Linked DNA regions of Homo sapiens. The main gene of each other region encodes a partner of the protein of the gene in region 2 in a complex. Each region holds a gene or a part of one and is shown on either strand. Other genes may lie near its edges.

Region 1 (4,315 bases), on a different chromosome or scaffold from region 2:
TGTCCGCCCCGTCTGGGAAGTGAGGAGCGCCTCTGCCCGGCCGCCCCATCTGGGAGGTGTACCCAACAGCTCCGAAGAGACAGCGACCATTGAGAATGGGCCATGATGACGATGGCGGTTTTGTCAAAAAGAAAAGGGGGAAATGTGGGGAAAAGAAAGAGAGATCAGATTGTTACTGTGTCTGTGTAGAAAGAAGTAGACATAGGAGACTCCATTTTGTTCTGTACTAAGAAAAATTCTTCTGCCTTGGGATGCTGTTAATCTATAACCTTACCCCCAACCCCGTGCTCTCTGAAACATGTGCTGTGTCAACTCAAGGTTAAATGGATTAAGGGCGGTGCAAGATGTGCTTTGTTAAACAGGTGCTTGAAGGCAGCATGCTCCTTAAGAGTCATCACCACTCCCTAATCTCAAGTACCCAGGGACACAAACACTGTGGAAGGCCGCAGGGACCTCTGCCTAGGAGAACCAGAGACCTTTGTTCACGTGTTTATCTGCTGACCTTCTCTCCACTATTATCCTATGACCCTGCCACATCCCCCTCTCCGAGAAACACCCAAGAATGATCAATAAATACAAAAAAAAAAAAGAAAAGAAAAAAGAAACTGTCTTTTTCTGAATGACTTGCTTTCCTCCCAGGCGAGCTTACTATATTTGGTCTTTGGCTTTCAGACTGGTCAAGCCCAGCATTCCAGCAGCTCTCAGGAGTAACACAGACCTGCACCACCAAGTCCCTGGCAATGGTATGGAGAATGAGAGCGGGTATCTGGAAGGGAATGAGATCTGCTCCTGGGATGGCATTTGAGGTTTTATCAGGCCAAGTGCTGTGCGCCCTGGGGAGGATTCCAGAGTTGGGTGACTTGTGTGTGGGTTCTACAGGGCCACCTGGTCCGGAGATCCTGTCTGTCTTTTTGAGCATGGCAGCAGCTTGTATTTGGGTGTCCTTTTGCATCTCAGACTCCTATTTCCCACCTGGGTGATAATTTTTCTTTTTCCCTTGTGAAGATAACCTTGTCATTGGCCACAAGGAGAACAGATTCCAAGGGAGGCCTTGCCCACCCTATGACACTCCTTTTTATAGGACAAGGTGGCTCACTTCTCCTACCCATTCACGTTTGAAGCCTTCTTCCTCCATGAGGATGAATCTTCTGGTGAGTAGCTCAGCAGTTGATCCTGGGCCTTGGTTCCCCTCAAGCAGTGCTGTCTCTTGGTGAAGGCCGCCTGTGACCTGGCCGCTTCTCTCCTTGCTCCCAGATGCACTCCCGGAGTGGCCTGTGCTCTACTGTGAGGTCCTCTCGCTGGACTTCTGGCAGAGGTACCGTGTGGAAGGCTATGGGGCTGTGGTGCTGCCTGCCACTCCAGGTAACCGCTCGTCTCTGCCCTTCTGTGGCCCACATGCCCTAGGCCCTAAGAACAAGACTAACACTCGAATGCTTCTGGTGAGGGGTGGAGATAATTGGGAATTGGAAATGTTTGGCTTGAAAGAGTTCCTGTTCCTCTGAGGACTTTCTGCCCCCCTCCATTAGCGACAATGACGTGGCCTTGGCACTGACTTCCTGACAGTCTCTCCATGTGCTTCATGCTCCTCTGATTGGACTCAGGGTGAGAAGCTGTATGGCAAAATTGGCTCATAGCATATGTGTATTGAATGAATCAGCATTCAGTTTGGAATAAAAGCATCTGTCTTTTACTGTGTGCCAGGCATTGTGCCATACTTCTCACTTAATTCTCCCAGTCACTCTGTGAGGTGCAGGTGGTATTATTTCCATTTTACTAGATGAGGAGAATGAGCTTCAGAGAGGTTAAGAAACCTGTCCTGGGTATGCAGGTAATAACTGGCAGAGCGGAAATTTGAATTTCTCCCTGATTGATTTCCATACAGGTGCTATGGGTAACCATGATAACCTGCACCAGAGGCCAGGTCATCACCAGACCAGGTGTTTTAGCTGAGTCTAGGCCTGTGTCATTGCTGGGGAGTCAGTGAGGGGCCACATGCCCTTTCTGGACCTGGCCCCAGTCTTCTCTTCCCTTGCGCAGGCTCACACACCCTGACAGTCTCCACGTGGAGACCTGTGGAGCTTGGCACGGTGGCTGAGCTGAGGAGGTTTTTCATTGGCGGTTCTCTGGAACTGGAGGACCTCTCCTATGTACGGATACCAGGATCCTTCAAGGTGACTTTTGTCTTTGGAGTGACTTCACGCTGAGAACTTATGGTCCTGTCCTTCTGTAGGAGGTGGGATCTGGGTCAAGACCCCTTAGTTGTGCATTGCTTCAGTATTAACCCCTTCCTTCCTGTGGCTTAAGCTGGAAGTCATGACCACATTTTGAATCAGGTTCCAATATCTACACTGCTATCGTAGGAGGTCTCTGGAAAATAGTATAATTAGAGATTTCCCCTGGTTCCCATCAGAATAACTGGCTCTTTCCCCCATCACTGAAGGCCTCAGTAATCAGATGTGGGGAGGATTCACAGTAAGCATATAAGACCGCCGCTTCTCAAATGAGGTTGGAATGTTCCCTGGTTTAGTTGGGGGAGCCCAATAGCCCAGTATTAGCCTTGAGGTAATAGAGTCTGGGTGATGGAATAAGGTTTCCCCAACAGAACTGCGCTTCCCAAGAATGGGAATAAGAATGGGGGTGAGGCCAGCATGGTGCGGGGGTGTCTAGAGAGAGCAGAAACCTGAGGCTGTCCCAATGGCATGCCACAGGGGGAACGCCTGAGCCGCTTTGGACTCCGCACAGAGACCACAGGCACTGTCACCTTCCGCTTGCACTGTCTGCAGCAGTCCAGGTGAGTGACTTGGCCCTCTGCCTCAGGGCACCTTAGCCCTGAGGGGTGGAGACAGCCGTAACCATGTGGCTGGCCTCCCTGCAGGGCCTTCATGGAATCGAGCTCCCTTCAGAAAAGGATGCGGAGTGTGTTGGACCGTCTGGAAGGGTTCAGCCAGCAGAGTTCCATTCACAATGTGCTAGGTATGTCCCCTCCCCCAGCTGGCCACCCCAGGTCAGCATGGGCCTGTTTCTCTCTGCAGTGCAGAGAGAAATACCATATGGCAGCCAAATAGCATATCTCCTTTCCTTACAGAGGCCTTCCGTCGAGCCCGGCGCCGCATGCAGGAGGCCCGGGAAAGCCTCCCGCAGGACCTAGTGAGCCCCTCTGGAACCCTGGTCTCCTAGCTCACAGCAGCCCTGGCCCACAGTGCAAGAGGACAAGATGGGGGATATCTGAGGCCAGTGCTCTCCTGCCTCTTCGTCTTTCTGATTAGAGACCACGTTGGTCTGCTGAGAACCAGAAAAGCTGGGAAATTCCCGGCTGGCCCCTCTGCCTAGCCTTCTGCAGGGTCTTCTCCCTACCCTGTGGAAATAAAGCCAGAGACCCTGTGGCCCCCCCTTTATATTTGCAGCCACTGTCAATGGGCATCACAGCAAGGCAGGCTTTTTGATCTGAAGCTGTTTGGGGTGACCCCATAGTGAGTCTGGCCTTGACTCACTTTTCTGGCTTGTCTCACAGTAGCAGGGGATCTGCTGTTCTCCACCCTTTAAAAATGGAGCCTTTCATCTTCCAAGACCAAAGAAGGAAGGAAGGTGGACGGTGAGAGGGTCTTAAATCCCCAGCCTGTGAGTCTCAGCCTCTTTCCAGGGAAGCCTCATTCTACTGCTTGGGGCTTGCTGAGGTTGAGATATGAGTTATTTCTGAGTAAGTGAAGGCTGAAGGCAGTGCTGAGTCCTTTCTGCTAGCTGGGTGGTATCTTTTACTGTGTTTTTTTGTTTGTTTGTTTTTTTGTTTTTTGTTACATAAACCCCTTTTATTTTGACTGATGTTCTGTTGGCTGTTTGTCTGCTCAGGTTGCTGGTATGGCTAGGGTGTTCTTAATGTCGGGGCCCCTACCATGTCTGCCCTTCCCCTTTTCTGCCTTTCCCTACTCCACAGTGTTTCTTTGGGCTCTCCTAATTCAGCCCCCAGGAGAGGCTTAGATGGTTGTGCCAGCTTGCGTGTTAACAGCACTTCTCTTAAACATCTGGAGCAAAGCATGGAACTGAGGCCACGTCTTCCCTAGCCCAACACAGAAACAGCAGCCCCTGCCCTTAGCAGTGCTTTATTGGTAGAAGCAGAGCATGCTGCCTGGCCTCAGGCTCAGAGGAGTATTGTGGGGTGTCTGGAGGCTAGGACCGAGTGGTCTCTTAGTCATGGTGAGGGAGGGGAGGGAGGGCTGGGAAACAGTAGAAAGTGCTGTAAACCCTCCAGCTGACTTTTCTTGCCTGGGGTGCAAGACCACATGGCTTGGCTCCCAAGCCTTTGCACGTGGCGCTGATT
Region 2 (7,142 bases):
TTTCAAATTTTAAAATTATTGTTGGCTGGAAAAATTATAAGGATGATTGTAATCATGGTTATTTGTTTATTCTGTATATGTTCTACATGCCTATTATGTGCCTTATATAGTACTAAGGACTGAGCATATGGTTGTGAACAAAATAAGAAGTTAACTGCTGGATGGAGCTTATAGTCTTGGGAAATATACAGAAAGATTACTAGTAACTGAGGTGGAGGGTGGGTGGGGATTTGAGGAATAGTGACGAAAGGGTGTTATAGAAGTAATTTTTGACAAAGCTGAAGGCTAAAATATGAATGTATTGTTGAAGAACAAAATACATTGAGATTCCTGAGAAGGTAGGAATGTGATACAAATGGATCAGCCTTTGAAAGGAGGAATACCCTTTTCCTTTGTGTTAGGAGAGGAGGATGAGTGGATGAGCGTGGGAAGAGTGGATGTGTATAGAGGCTTTTATGTTTGTAGGCATAATGCTTGGAAGTTGAGGGGTTGGTGATGACATCTTCTGTTAAAAAGAGTGGGAAATGGTGTGGTCACATTTTAAGGAAATTAGGTAAAATTTGAAATATATTGGAGACAGGACTGGAGAGTTGGGGATCTGGAGTCAGACAGATTTGAGTTCTAGTCCTGATTCTTCTACTCGTTAACTCTCTGAACTTGGATGACCTATTGTTTTTGATTGTATATCCAGCTCCTGGGAAAATGCCAAGCACTTTCAATAAATACTAAATGAATTATGGAGTTGGATCAGTTCTGTGTTAGTGTTTAGCTAGGTAGCTGCTGTAGAATAGAAGGGTAGCACAGTTGAAGATATTGGTAGGAAAGTGGTTGAAGTGATGATTATGAAGTCTTAACTGAATAGATAAAATCAAGATTGGGGTTGGGTGGGCAGAAGGGTAGGGATATGGAGGGAGAAGATGAGGGGTTAGAGTGTCCTGTGAGGTCGAAGGACAGGCATAGTGGGAATAATTGAAAGAATGTTCTGGTTGGACAAGGATCTGATGTGGGTGTGGGAGTGAGAGACTATAGTGAATTCAAGAAAAAAATAGACTAGAACAAAAGTTATGTGGAGATTGCTTAGTGGGCATTTGATAGACATCTGTGGGCCACATGCTTAAATTCCCAGTGCATTTTGCGGAGTTACTGGAAGGTTGGTGGCTTGTTTCTACCATGAGTAGGTAAAGATGGAGAGCAGGATATTTTGTGAGAAAGCAGCTGAAGTTTCTATAGGATGATGGAGGAATGATAGGAATGATCACCTGAAGTTGCAGGGTGGGGTAAACCTAGAAGCACCAACACCTTCTTCTGACCCTCATGTATTTGGAATCTGAAAGAATGAGCACCTTCCAATTGAAAGAGTTCCAAGGGCATTAGTATACTAAAGGATCCAAATTGCAGCTAAGCCAAGGAGATGGAAAGGAGGATTCAGTAAAGAATCTGAGGATGTGAAATATTAATTTATCTTGGAAGAGAATTTTAGAGAGCACAATGGAATGCTTTTTGGAGGAGAGAAAGAGTAAGAACAATTTGGTTAAGGTAGAGGAATAACAGAACTATAAGGTGAAGAAATGAATGTGAGACACATTAGATGACCAAATGATTTGATGTTCTTGGCCATGACCTGAATTAACAAGACTGTGAGGTAAAATGGATTTAATCGGCTACAAATCTTAAGATAACCAAAACCTGAGCTGTTTAATATGGTAGCACTAGCACTAACCACTTGTAGCTATTTATATTTACATTGGTTAAAATTAAAATGAAAAATTTAGTTCTTCAGTTGCACTAGCCACACTTCAAATGCCCGAACATAGCTACATGTAGCGAGTGGCTATTGAACTGGACAGCACTGACAGCATGTCCATTATGCTAGAAAGTCCTATGGGACAGCACTGGTCTAAACAGTGCATGGTATGAGAGAAAGGGCAGGTTAAGGCACTCAGCTTCACTGACTGGGGTGGAGATTCTGATGGTTTGTACTCAGGTTCCAGATCCCTGAGGCTCAGGAACCTTTGCAGTTTAGTCTGGTTACCTGTGGCCCAGTGGTTACAACAGAATGATTAACAGTCAATTCTTTGCATCTCTGGGTGGCTCAGGAAAAATTTAAGGAGTTATTAGCTGTGAACTAACCTTAAGTAAGTTAAATTAAAAAAAAAAAAGTTCTTAAGCTAATATGATTTTAAATATCTGCACTGAAGTATAATGCAAATTTAAATTCAGCATAATTATTTGCTTGTTGTTGACTCATTTGAACCTCAAAATATAATGGGATTAATTTATACTTTGGGTTTATTACTTTAAGATGGCTCAGCAGTCTGCAGGTGGACGAGATACTCGGTTTTTACGTAATGAAATTTGCCAACTTGAAAAACAATTAGAACAAAAAGATAGAGAATTGGAGGACATGGAAAAGGAGTTGGAGAAAGAGAAGAAAGTTAATGAGCAAGTAAAGCACTTTTTTTTTCCATGAATCTTCACTGTTCAAGTTACCTGGCTTTTTATTATTATTGGTAACAATATCAATTTTTATATTGTATGTTATATTTGAAAAATGATGTACACTTATCTCTAAGGTTTTATATCACTGTTCATTTTGTCATCACCAATTTTAAAATATAATGGTACTTCTAGTGAATATGACTTGAAGATTAATTCTTTATATTTGGAAGTACATTTTTCTCAGGACATCAAACTTGTTACCTAAAATTAATGCTTTTGTCTGGAAGATTGGTATCAAGTAACTAATAGATTTTCATAAAGAAGTGATCTTTCTAGTGCCATAGTTTATTTTGGGTAAAAGTTATATTTGTTCATTTCAATGTATTTATATGATTAGTAGATTCGCAAATGAATCTTTCGATATATTCAATAATGGTTAATTAAATATCTTGTTTTTGGTTGTACCTTATTTTATGTGAGATATATATATATATGTATAGTTTTTGAAAAGTTGTGTTCATGTCAGCAGTTTATAAATCACATATTTAAAATAACATTTTTAATGCATAGTTTTTATTACCTCGTTATTCCTTGTTATAAACTAATAATTCTTGCAGTGTTCACTTGAATTTAGTTTTAGGAAAAAAGTTTTTTGCAGATCAACTTGTATTTCCTGGAAGAAAATTTCCTATTTTACCTCAGCTTCCTATTTAATGTATTATTTATTTATTTACTTAACATTTATTTGTTTTTTATTTCACCTGAACTGTTAGTAAACTTAGTAAAATTTGGTGCCTACATGTGGTAACTGTCCTGTCCCTTATACTCAGAAACGTTTTCCACCTTTGTGTCCTTTAGGTCATTGTTGTGTTATATTCCATTTATTTTATTTTGTCCATTGTTCTCTCAGAAATTGAGGGTCATACATTTTAAGAAAACAATGATATGCTATTTAAGAGAATGTATCATAAATTGATTTGTAAGGAAAAGTATCCCCATTCTTCATGTATGTATTTTACTCTAAAATGTTGAAGAATCATATAGAAGTTAGCTATGAAAACAATGTGGTAGAGAAAGTATGGATCGATGCCACTTAAATGTTAGGAAGAAGCTCTTAGAGCATTATCTGTTTAGCTAACTGCAAAACATAGCAGACATGTGGATTTTTTAATAGTCATCAAGGATCTAACTTATAATATACACTGGTAGAATTGCTTAGGGGGATGTCTGTGGTTTTCTGGACTTTTGTTCTTCTATATAGACCTGTATCAGTTGACTTATCATTCATACCACACACCCTTAGCTAATCAGAACTACCTTGTCCATTTATATCTTAGACTATTGTCTTTTTTCATAGTCACACACAGAGAAAACTTGAATATATGGCCTGTGTTCCTTTTTGGCTGCTCAATTCCTTGAGATGAAATATGGGTATGGGTTGCTTTGGCAATTACTTCTTTGCCGTTAACCAGTCATTCAGTTTTATTGAGTCTTTACAGCATACCAGAGGCTGCTAGTTACTAGTGATATAGTGGGCAACTATGTTCTGGTTCTCAAGAATATTCATAGTCAATAATAAGCATAACATAGTGATAATATGATACTTAGGGAGATACATAAGGTCATATTCTGGCATACTCTGGAGAGAGATACCGTAATCAGCCTTGAGGTGCAGGATGTGATCTGTAAACTGAGACCTGAAGTATAGTTAGACTGGTAAGAGGAATGAGGATATATATGGTGGTTAATAAAAGAACATTCTGGGTAGAAGATATAGCATTTGCTAAGACCTAGAGGTAAGAGATGTTATGGAGTATTTAGGAAACTACAGTTATTCATTTTGACTGAAATATAAGTGAAAATAGCTTTCATAGAGTCCTTACTATGTGCCAGGCACTTCATATGCATTAATTCATTATTGCTTATTTGATACTTGTCATATGAGATAGTTGTCATTTCTGCCATGATACAGATGAAGAAATGGAGACACAGAAAGAGTAATTGCCCATGGTTGCACAGCTTATAAATGGTAAAGGTAGGATTTGAAAACAGTCTTACTCAAGAGTCTGTGCTATCTTGCCTTCCCAGTTTTATTTTTTATGATCCTCTGGAGAGATAAGCAAGGGCCAGTTCCTAATGAATTTGGTTCTTTTCCTGAAAGGAGCCAGTGAAGAGTTTTGAGCACAGGATATCATGATCAGATCTATACTTTAAAAGTTTACTGTACTTTGTAGAGAGTGGATTGAAAAGGGCCAAGACTAGTAAGGAAACATTTGTGTTAATTCAGGGAAGTGCTAATGATGGCATTTGCCTGAGAAAGACAAGTGTGAGAGAAGTAGATGTAATTGGATGTGGTGAATGTAATTGGTTGTTGGAGGAGAGGGAGGATGGAGAGTCTGCCTAATTTTGTGGGTTGGGCCACTAAATAGGTAGATAGTGCCATTCATTAAGGAGGAACACAAGAGGAATTTGGAAAGCTTGAGATTATTTCAGTTTTGTAGATGTTGAGTTTGAGGTTCTTCTGGGCATATTCAAAAAGGGTATCTGTGGATATGGAATTCACAAGAGACCCTGTACAGATGATGAGGATTTATGAATCATCAATGTAGACATTATTGAAGCCAGAGAAGTGATTGTAAGGCACGTCTCTGAGAAATGTCTAATAAAGCAATGAAATAGGAAGAGTGCTTCAAGGAAAAGCTCAAGAAAGGAGAAACAGAGTGTGATGTTTGAGAAGACAAGGGAAAAAAACATTAATAGCATTAAATGCTTTAGCATTAAGTTCTTGGCTTCTCTTCTTGTAAAAATTTCCCAATTCAGAACACAGTGGGATTATTAACTTTCAATTGATAATAATAATGATAGGCAAACTTCTAAAATTTGTATTGTAGTTTGCATTTTATTATAAACTTTCTTTAAATTTTTATTTTGAAAAATGTCATATCTTCATAAAGATTGTAAGAAACACACTGTTGGTGTTAATGTAAATTAGTTCAACCATTGTGGGAGACAGTGTGGCAATTCCTCGAAGATCTAGAAGCAGAAATACCACTTGACCCAGCAATCCCATTACTGGGTATATACCCAAAAGAATATAAATCATTTTCTTATAAAGATACTTGCACACATATGTTCATTGCAGCACTATTCACAATAGCAAAGACATGGAATCAACCCAAATGCTCATCAATGATAGACTGGATAATGAAAATGTGGAACATATACATCATAGAATACTATGCAGCCATCAAAAGAGAATGAGAGGTCAAGCGTGGTGACTCATGCCTACAGTCCCAGCACTTTGGGAGGCCGAGGCAGGCAGATCACTTGAGGTCAGGAGTTCAAGACCAGCCTGGCCAGTATGGTGAAACCCCATCTCTACAAAAACAAAACAAAACAAACAAAAATTAACTGGTCATGGTACTGTATGCCTGCAGTCCCAGCTACTTGGGAGGCTGAGGCAGGAGAATGACTTGAACCCAGAAGGCAGAGGTTGCAGTGAGCTGAGATCGCACCACTGGACTCTAGCCTTAGCAACAAAACTAGAGTTTGTCTCAAAAAAAAAAAAAAAAAAAAACCGGAACAAGATCATGTCCTTTGCAGGGACATGGGATGGAGGTGGAAGCCATTATCCTCAGCAAACTCACACAGGAACAGAAAACCAAACACTGCATGTTCTCACTTATAAGTGGGAGCTGAACAATGAGAACACATGGACACATGGTGGGGAACAACACACACTGGGACCCGTCAAGGGGTCGGGGTGGGAGAACATCAGGAAGAATAGCTAATGGATGCTGGGCTTAATATCTAGGTTATGGGTTGATCTGTGCAGCAAGCCACCATTGTACACATTTACCTAAGTAACAAACCTGCACATCTTACACATGTACCCCAGAACTTAAAAGTTGATGGGAAAAAGAAAAACAATAACCACCCACATACCCTTCATATAGATTCACCAGTTCTTAATGTTGTGCCAACTTTGCTTTATCTTTTTGTCAGTATTTTTACACACACATGTATTTCTCTGTCTCTTGTTTGTTCAATCACATTTTTTGCTGAGTCATTTAAGAGCTAATTGCAGATATGATACTTTGCACTTAAATATTTCAGCTTGTCTGTTTGAAAAAGAAAGATGTTCTCCTACAATGAACACAATATAATTGTCATGCTCAGGAATTTTAATATTGATTCAACACCATTATCTAGTCCATAATGAGATTTCTTCTAATGGCCCAATAATATCCTTCAGTCTCCCCACCTCCAATATCCAAAGTTCTGTCAAGGATCACATACTACATTTGGTTCTTTATTATAGACTTTTTAAATATCGTTGTATACCATTGTGATTCTATCGTCTCCTTTAATAAAGAGGAGAACCAGAAAAATGAAAGGTCATAAGAGGAATGAGGTTTGGAGAATAGGTGAAAAAAGGCATCATAATGTTTATAATAATGTTTGCCTGTTCAGAGAAACAAGAATCACAGATAAAGTCACTTATATGTAGATAAGAGAATGCTGTATTACTTTTTGCTATTCTATTCACTGATCATTTTTCTAAGAACTCTGTATGCTTCTTGTTTAACTCTTATGTCAGCATGTATGAGAAAACTGAGTTAAAGAGATGTTAAGTAACTCATTCATGCTTTACTAGAAATTGGTTGATGAGGGACATAAACCTAGGCCGGTGTGATTTTAGA
Region 3 (7,000 bases), on a different chromosome or scaffold from region 2:
TCCCCAGTAGCTGGGACTACAGGCACCCACCACCATGCCCAGCTAATTTTTTGTATTTTTAGTAGAGACGGGTTTCACCGTGTTAGCCAGGATGGTCTTGATCTCCTGACCTCATGATCCGCCTGCCTCGGCCTCCCAAAGTGCTGGGATTACAGGTGTGAGCCACTGTGCCCGGCTGACTCCTGTGTCCTTTCAACATTTCCCACCCCACCATTTTTTTGAGCACTTCCTTACTTGTTCACAGTGTTTTTGAACACCGATGACAGAAATTACATAAATTCTCAATTGTTCTTTTGTTTTTTAGATTGCTTTGGGTGTATTGGGTGGGCTAGCTGTTTTAGCATCTCTTTTGAAGACAGCAGGATGGAAGAGGCGCATTGGGAGTCCCATGATTGATTTACAGGTATAATCTCAGGAGTTTTTTAAGAATATTTTTATCTTTTGACCATTCTGGATCCTTCTCATAAGACACAGCTAGAGAATAAGTAAAAAAGTTGCATTGAATTTTTCTGGGATATGTAATTAGGGTAAGTATTGCTGGGTCATATGGTATATGTGTACCTCATTTTCTTCCCACCATACTGTATGCCAGTCTATATTCCCACCAGCAATGCTCTTCTTATTTCTGCACATACTTGGCAACACTTGATATTTTTCCAACCTTTTCATTTTTTGCCAACCTCATGGCATATAGTAGTATGTCATTGTTGATTTCATTTTCATTTCTCTGTACTCTTCATATACATTTTAATCGTTTGGGTTTCTCCTTCTGTGAACTGCCTGTTTATATCCCTTGCCCATTTCTCTATTATGTTTCCAGTTTTTATTGTTTATTTGAAGAATTTTTTTTTGTATTTTCTAAATAGTAACCCCTTTTTGGTTTCTGATGTTGAAATATATGACCAAATAAATATGTGACCCATCCGTTATTTTTATCCATGTAGTCCTTTGTTTAACAGAAACTTTCAGGTTTGTTTTTGTTTTCATTTTTGTTTTTTTTTGTTGTTGTTTTTTTGAGACGGAGTCTCACTCTGTCGCTGAGGCTGGAGTGCAGAGGCACAATCTTGGTTCACTTGCAACCTCTGCCTCCCGGGTTCAAGCAATTCTCCTGCCTCAGCCTCCTGAGTAGCTGGAATTACAGGCGCACACCACCATGCCTGGCTAATTTTTGTATTTTTAGTAGAGACGGGGTTTCACCATGTTGTTCAGGCTGGTCTTGAACTCCTGGCCTCATGATCCGCCCACCTCAGCCTCCCAAAGTGCTGGGATTACAGGCATGAGCCACCACGCCTGGCCAGAAACTTTTGGTTTTGATATCATCATATCTGAATATTTTTTTTCATGTTATGATACGTGCTTTTGGGATCTTGTTTAGGAAAACCGTCCCTATATCAAGATCACAAAGATAGTCCACATTTTATTCTATTAACTTTATACTTTCACTTCATGGTTAACCTTTTATTTTTATTAAACATTTAAAAAATATTTACCATGTACCAGGCACTTTTTAAAGCTTTATGTATGTAATTTTCTGAATCCGCACAGTAGCTCTTTGAAGTTAGGTTATTATTATTATTTGCGTTTTACACGTGATGAAATTGAGGTAAAGGTTAAATTTTCTACTCACTTGATTTTTGCAACTCAGTAATAGGTATTTCCGTTTTGTTGATGAAGAACATGAGAAAGGTTACATGGTAGCTTTAACCAAAGTATCTTTCTGATTCCAAAGCCAGTGGGCTAAGGAATCAGCAGGGGTACTTGATTTACTACTTGGGATAGTCCAGAAAGGCTTCCCAGAGAAATGAACTTTAAGTGGGATTATCTGTTCATTCTATAATAGTCACTGAGGCTCTATTGTCTAAGTGTCTGGCACTCTACCAGGAGCTGGAGAATGTGTTAGTGAGCAAAGACAGACATAGTCTGTGCTCTCAGAAATCATGAGAACTTACCAGAGAGGGGAAGAGAAGAATATTTGGTAAAACAATGCCCATTTTATTCCAGAAAGTATTTGAGATGAACGTATGGAGTGGTTAGTCATTGACTACATGGCTGGAACTGGCAGATGAGGCTAAAAAGTTAATTTTGGCCCATATTGTGAAAGACCTTGTGGATCAGGAATTTATATTGCAATGAGGAGTTGTTCATTTTTAACAAGGGGAGTGACACAATCCAATTTACATCTTAGAAAACTAACTCTGGTGGTAGTGTGGAGGAGAGATTAGAGGGGAGGATTCCCAACTAAGAGAAAATTAGGAAGCAGTTCAATTTTCTTAGATAGTGAAAGATGAGAAGAGTTGAAAGAAGAGGCTACCAGGAACGGCCAGAAAGGTAAGGAGCCAAAAGGTAGCAAGGAGGAGGAAGCAGGTGGTCTTTATAGCTGGATCATATGGGGATATGTGAAACAAGGCTTCAGGCTTAAGAAATGGAGTGGATGATGTATAAAAGTGGTAGTGTTACTAAAAGTGGTATATACATGGAGTCTTAAACAGCTGTAATTCTTTTTTTTAAATTGCAGACAGTTGTGAAATTCTTGGTGTACTATGCTGGTGATCTGGCCAATGTTTTCTTTATCATCACAGTGGGAACAGGTCTTTACTGGCTTATTTTCTTCAAAGTGAGTGAGTTTCTGAATTTTCCCCAACTGCCAATATCTGAATAGTTGAAAAGCTTTCTTTATAAAGGAACTATTTTTATTTGAGAGAATTTTTGATCAACAGTATTAAGAAAAGTTCCCAACTCCCCATTCCTTGAGTGTGCTGAGCTTATCGATTACATCACTATCTTCCTCTTTTATGCTTTCTTTGGTTTATAAATTGTGCTTAGTAAAAACCTTGTTCAATTGGAAGACTTAGGTGGGAGGATCCTGTGAGTCCAGAATCAAGTCCTGCCCGGGCAGCATACTGAGACCCTCCTTTCCCAAAAAAAAACAAAAACGAAAACAAAAAACAAACAAACAAACAAAAAAAACTGTGTGTGATAATATTTAATCAAGTAATTTTTATTATAGGCACAGAAGTCTGTGTCTGTTTTGCTGCCAATGCCAATTCAGGAAGAACGTTTTGTCACTTATGTTGGATGTGCCTTTGCTCTGAAGGTAAGTTTTAAAGGACAGGTTACCAAATTTAAAAGGCCTGCTAATGAACTAACAAGTCTTTAAAATTAAAATGCTTTCAAAAATCTTTGGCGTGAAATTCACTTTGGTTTTGAAAGAAAGCATTAATTATTTTATGTGGTAAATTTACTTTTATTTATAGTAGATGCTCAGTCTGAAACTCTGCCTTAAATATTTTTTTCAAAGAAGCCATGAATTTGTATGGCTTATTTGATAAAATGATATTTCAGTATATAACTTTCTTTAAAGTCTGATGATACATTCACAATGGGACAAAATGTCTTCAGGCATGAATTTTGTCTCCATTAATCAAGGGTAAAAGGTACCACTCTGGATAAAGTGTTGAGATCTTAAAAGTTGTTTTGTCTGTCTCCAGATTCCTTTGCTCCTTTCTTCCTATGGCCCCCCAATCCCCAACTCAGTGTTCTCCATCAATGTAGGTGAATCTCTTTATATGCCTGTTGGTAGTCCTTATCCTATTTTACTGTGAGTGTTAAGTGTCTGCTTTTTCCACTGACTGGGAGCTTCTTGAGGTGAAGTATCTCATACTTAGATTTTTATCCTTTATTTGATGAATAATGCAGCAACTAGAAAGAATGCCTCAGTTTAAACATATTGCTTGTATAAATAAGAAAGATGTGTTTCAACAGCACATTCTTTAAAAATCAGAAATCTGAATAGCAGAAATAGAAAAAAAAGACAGTAAGAGCATTCGAAAACTTTAATTAGGAAAAACAAACTATAGTTGAAAATATCTTTACTTATAAAGAAGTCAGCTGATCTACAAAACAAAGTGTGCTTCTAGAATCTTTGGGAAAGAGTCAATTATATAAGTCCCTATGTGAGGAGGAGGAAAAATGTCTCCTCTTTTCATATTCCTATTTTAAAGAAAGAAAGAAAAAGGGAAGGTAAATTAAGATGTATATGAAAATTCTGTGAATTTGATGATTCCAGGTTATCTGATGAGCTTCTAATGATTCCTTAGTGGTATTATAACTTCATGTGAATTCACTCATAAAATTATATGTTCTTGTGATAACAGTATGTTTCTTAAAGAGTCAATATTGGTTTTATAAGCAGACTTAACGCTGGTACTTTTTCAGGTGTTTTATTATATGTCATTCTCAGGCACTACAATTTTTGCATAAGCTCATATCCCAGATTACAATAGATGTATTCTTTATTGATTGGGAGCGACCTAAAGGAAAGGTTCTTAAAGCTGTTGAAGGTAACTGAAATAAAAAATATTTGTACCAAAATTCTTTTGCTACCCTTGCAGAGCAAAGGAGGTAAAACTCTTTTACTCATTTTATTTTCCTGACCAGGTGAGGGTGGTGTACGAAGTGCCACTGTTCCTGTAAGCATATGGAGAACATATTTTGTAGCAAATGAATGGAATGAAATTCAGACTGTGAGAAAAATTAATTCACTCTTTCAAGTACTTACTGTCCTCTTCTTTTTGGAGGTATAAACTGTTTGATGTGATTATATGCGACTTACATGTACCTTATAAATATTAAACTAATATAATTCCAACTAAGTTTTCATGACAGTGGAAGATTTCTCTAAAGGTTGAAATATTGTTGTGAAGCCATTAAAAAGGAGTACCTTTATGTTACGTATTTTACCACAATTCTTTTTTTAAGTTTACCATCTTAAGCATTTTTAAGTGTAGAGTTTAATAGTGTTAAGTTGGCCAGGCACAGTGGCTCATGCCTGTAATCCCAACACTTTGGGAGGCTGAGGCAGGCGGATCACCTGAGGTTGGAAGTTCAAGACCAGCCTGGCCAACATGGAGAAACCCCGTCTCTACCAAAAAATACAAAATTAGCTGGGCATGGCGGCACATGCCTATAATCCCAGCTGCTCGGGAGGCTGAGGCAGGAGAATTGCTTGAACCCGGGAGGCGGAGGTTACAGTGAGCCGAGATTGCACCATTGAACTCCAGCCTGGGCAGAAAGAGCAAAACTCCATCTCAGAAAAAAACAAACAAACAAAAAGTAGTGTTACGTACATTCACATTGCCACGCAAAATCATCATCACCATTCATCTTAGAACTCTTCATCTTGCAAAACTGAAACTCTATACCCCTTAAACAACTCTGTACCCATTCCCTGCTACACCTAACCCCAGGCAACCACCATTCTATAATACTTTCTGTCTCTGTGTGTTTGACTGCTCTAGGTGTAAGGAGTAGCTTTAAAACCACTGGTTTGTATCAGAATCCCTTGGGGATCTTTTGTAAAATACCTATGCTCAGGCTCACCCTTAGAGACTATGTGTTGATTTAGTAGCTTTGAGGTAACTCCAGGTATCTATATTTTGAAAAAGCTCCCTACCCCCGATCCATATTCTCCCCTGCATTAGAATCACTATTATAAGTTTGATATTTTTCAACAAATTTGTATTGAACACTTACTGTAGACTATGTTCTGTGCTAAGAGCTGGGGCTACACTGAACAAAACACAACATGTTTGTGATACATATGCAGTTATTTCATGGATTTGGTTGGAATTATTAAAGGAAGTATTCAGTACTGAGTATAAGACTGAACATGGAAACAGTTTATATGGGAATAGGTTTTCTCAGGAATTATCTGCTTAATTAAGATTGAATATAAATCATTAACTCTTAGGTCTGTCTGTCTGCCTTCCCTCTTTTTTCTTCTTTCTTTCCATTCTCTTTCCCCTTTCCCTTCCTTTCCTTTTATAAAACTAGTAGAAGAATGTTTGTATCCCTAGGGCTTTAAAATAATATGAACAAGACTTCCAAAGTTCACTTGAAGTGGTATTTTGGTTTTTCTTAAATGGACAGATAAAAATTACATATGTTTATAGTTTACAATACAGTGTTTTGATATATGTATTCATTGTGGAATGGCTAAATCAAGCTAGTTTATCTGTTACCTCACATCTTTTCTTTTTGTACTAAAGTAGTGTGTGTGTGTGTGTGTGTGTGTGTGTGTGTGTGTGTGTGTTTAAGAGTTTCCTCAGCTTTAAAAGGTGTTATGTGAAAAAGTTTTATGGTCAAGTAAGTTTGGAAAATATTGGATTCAGTATAATCATGTAGCACCTTTTACTGTAAAACTTCTCAGAGCCTTTATTCTACAAGGGTGGGAGGCATGGAGGTGAGTGTAATGGATGGACCAAAAGTATTTAAACATAGATTCTTTTTTCAAGAACTTATGTCCTTTAGAAGACATTTTGTAATATACTGTTTTAAAGTATAAAAATGTTTAGTACAGTGCCTGGCACATGTCAAATACTCATGAAATACTACTTGTTGGTTTCACTCATTGGTAGTTTACTGATGAAAGTTTTATCCTTTTAATTAAATTTTTAGTCTTGTCAGTGTGTATGACAATAAGGTTATATTTGGCCCTTAGTCATATTGAGAAGAATGCCAAATGAGCTAACTAAATATTGTGTAATAAATACTTTGTAGTTAAAATACTATATAATAATTATTTTTATCTAGATTTTCTACTGTTTATACAAACTTAGATATTTTAGTTTTTCAAGGTGAGTAGGGAGAGGTTTTCTGTTTTCAGTCTAGAGTAGTTTTCTTTATCCATGTCCGTTTAAATTACTACTTTTCCTTTTTACTCCAGGTTGTGGGATTCAAGAACTTAGCATTAATGGACTCATCTTCTAGTCTTTCTAGAAACCCACCTAGCTACATAGCTCCTTATAGCTGCATTTTGAGATATGCAGTGTCTGCTGCTCTTTGGCTAGCCATTGGAATTATACAGGTAAGGAATTATACAGGTAATATTACTTCTAAGTAACATTGCTTCTTTATAACTCTGCCTAATTACTGATTATCATCAAATATTGACCACATCCTTCTTTCTGTAGCAGAAAGAAGGTGACAAGAACAATAGCTA

What was found.
Region 1: CEP290 (region 2) and MKS1 share a complex: the UniProt entries of both Homo sapiens proteins name them as parts of the tectonic-like complex.
Region 3: CEP290 (region 2) and TMEM67 share a complex: the UniProt entries of both Homo sapiens proteins name them as parts of the tectonic-like complex.

Annotation. Positions count from the first base shown.
Region 1 is NC_000017.11:58,204,941-58,209,255, reverse strand, and holds the end of MKS1 (tectonic-like complex member MKS1), read left to right. Parts: intron 1-672; coding exon 673-743; exon of another isoform or gene 744-748; intron 749-1,081; coding exon 1,082-1,151; intron 1,152-1,254; coding exon 1,255-1,362; intron 1,363-1,526; coding exon of another isoform or gene 1,527-1,552; exon of another isoform or gene 1,553-1,695; intron 1,696-2,037; coding exon 2,038-2,171; intron 2,172-2,708; coding exon 2,709-2,791; intron 2,792-2,875; coding exon 2,876-2,973; intron 2,974-3,085; coding exon 3,086-3,177; coding exon of another isoform or gene 3,178-3,266; 3' UTR 3,267-3,815; downstream 3,816-4,315. UniProt on the Homo sapiens protein: Component of the tectonic-like complex, a complex localized at the transition zone of primary cilia and acting as a barrier that prevents diffusion of transmembrane proteins between the cilia and plasma membranes.
Region 2 is NC_000012.12:88,131,947-88,139,088, reverse strand, and holds part of CEP290 (centrosomal protein of 290 kDa), read left to right. Parts: intron 1-2,302; coding exon 2,303-2,446; intron 2,447-7,142. UniProt on the Homo sapiens protein: Involved in early and late steps in cilia formation. Its association with CCP110 is required for inhibition of primary cilia formation by CCP110.
Region 3 is NC_000008.11:93,792,894-93,799,893, forward strand, and holds part of TMEM67 (meckelin isoform 1 precursor), read left to right. Parts: intron 1-304; coding exon 305-403; intron 404-2,515; coding exon 2,516-2,614; intron 2,615-3,007; coding exon 3,008-3,094; intron 3,095-4,240; coding exon 4,241-4,340; intron 4,341-4,437; coding exon 4,438-4,577; intron 4,578-6,724; coding exon 6,725-6,865; intron 6,866-7,000. UniProt on the Homo sapiens protein: Required for ciliary structure and function. Part of the tectonic-like complex which is required for tissue-specific ciliogenesis and may regulate ciliary membrane composition.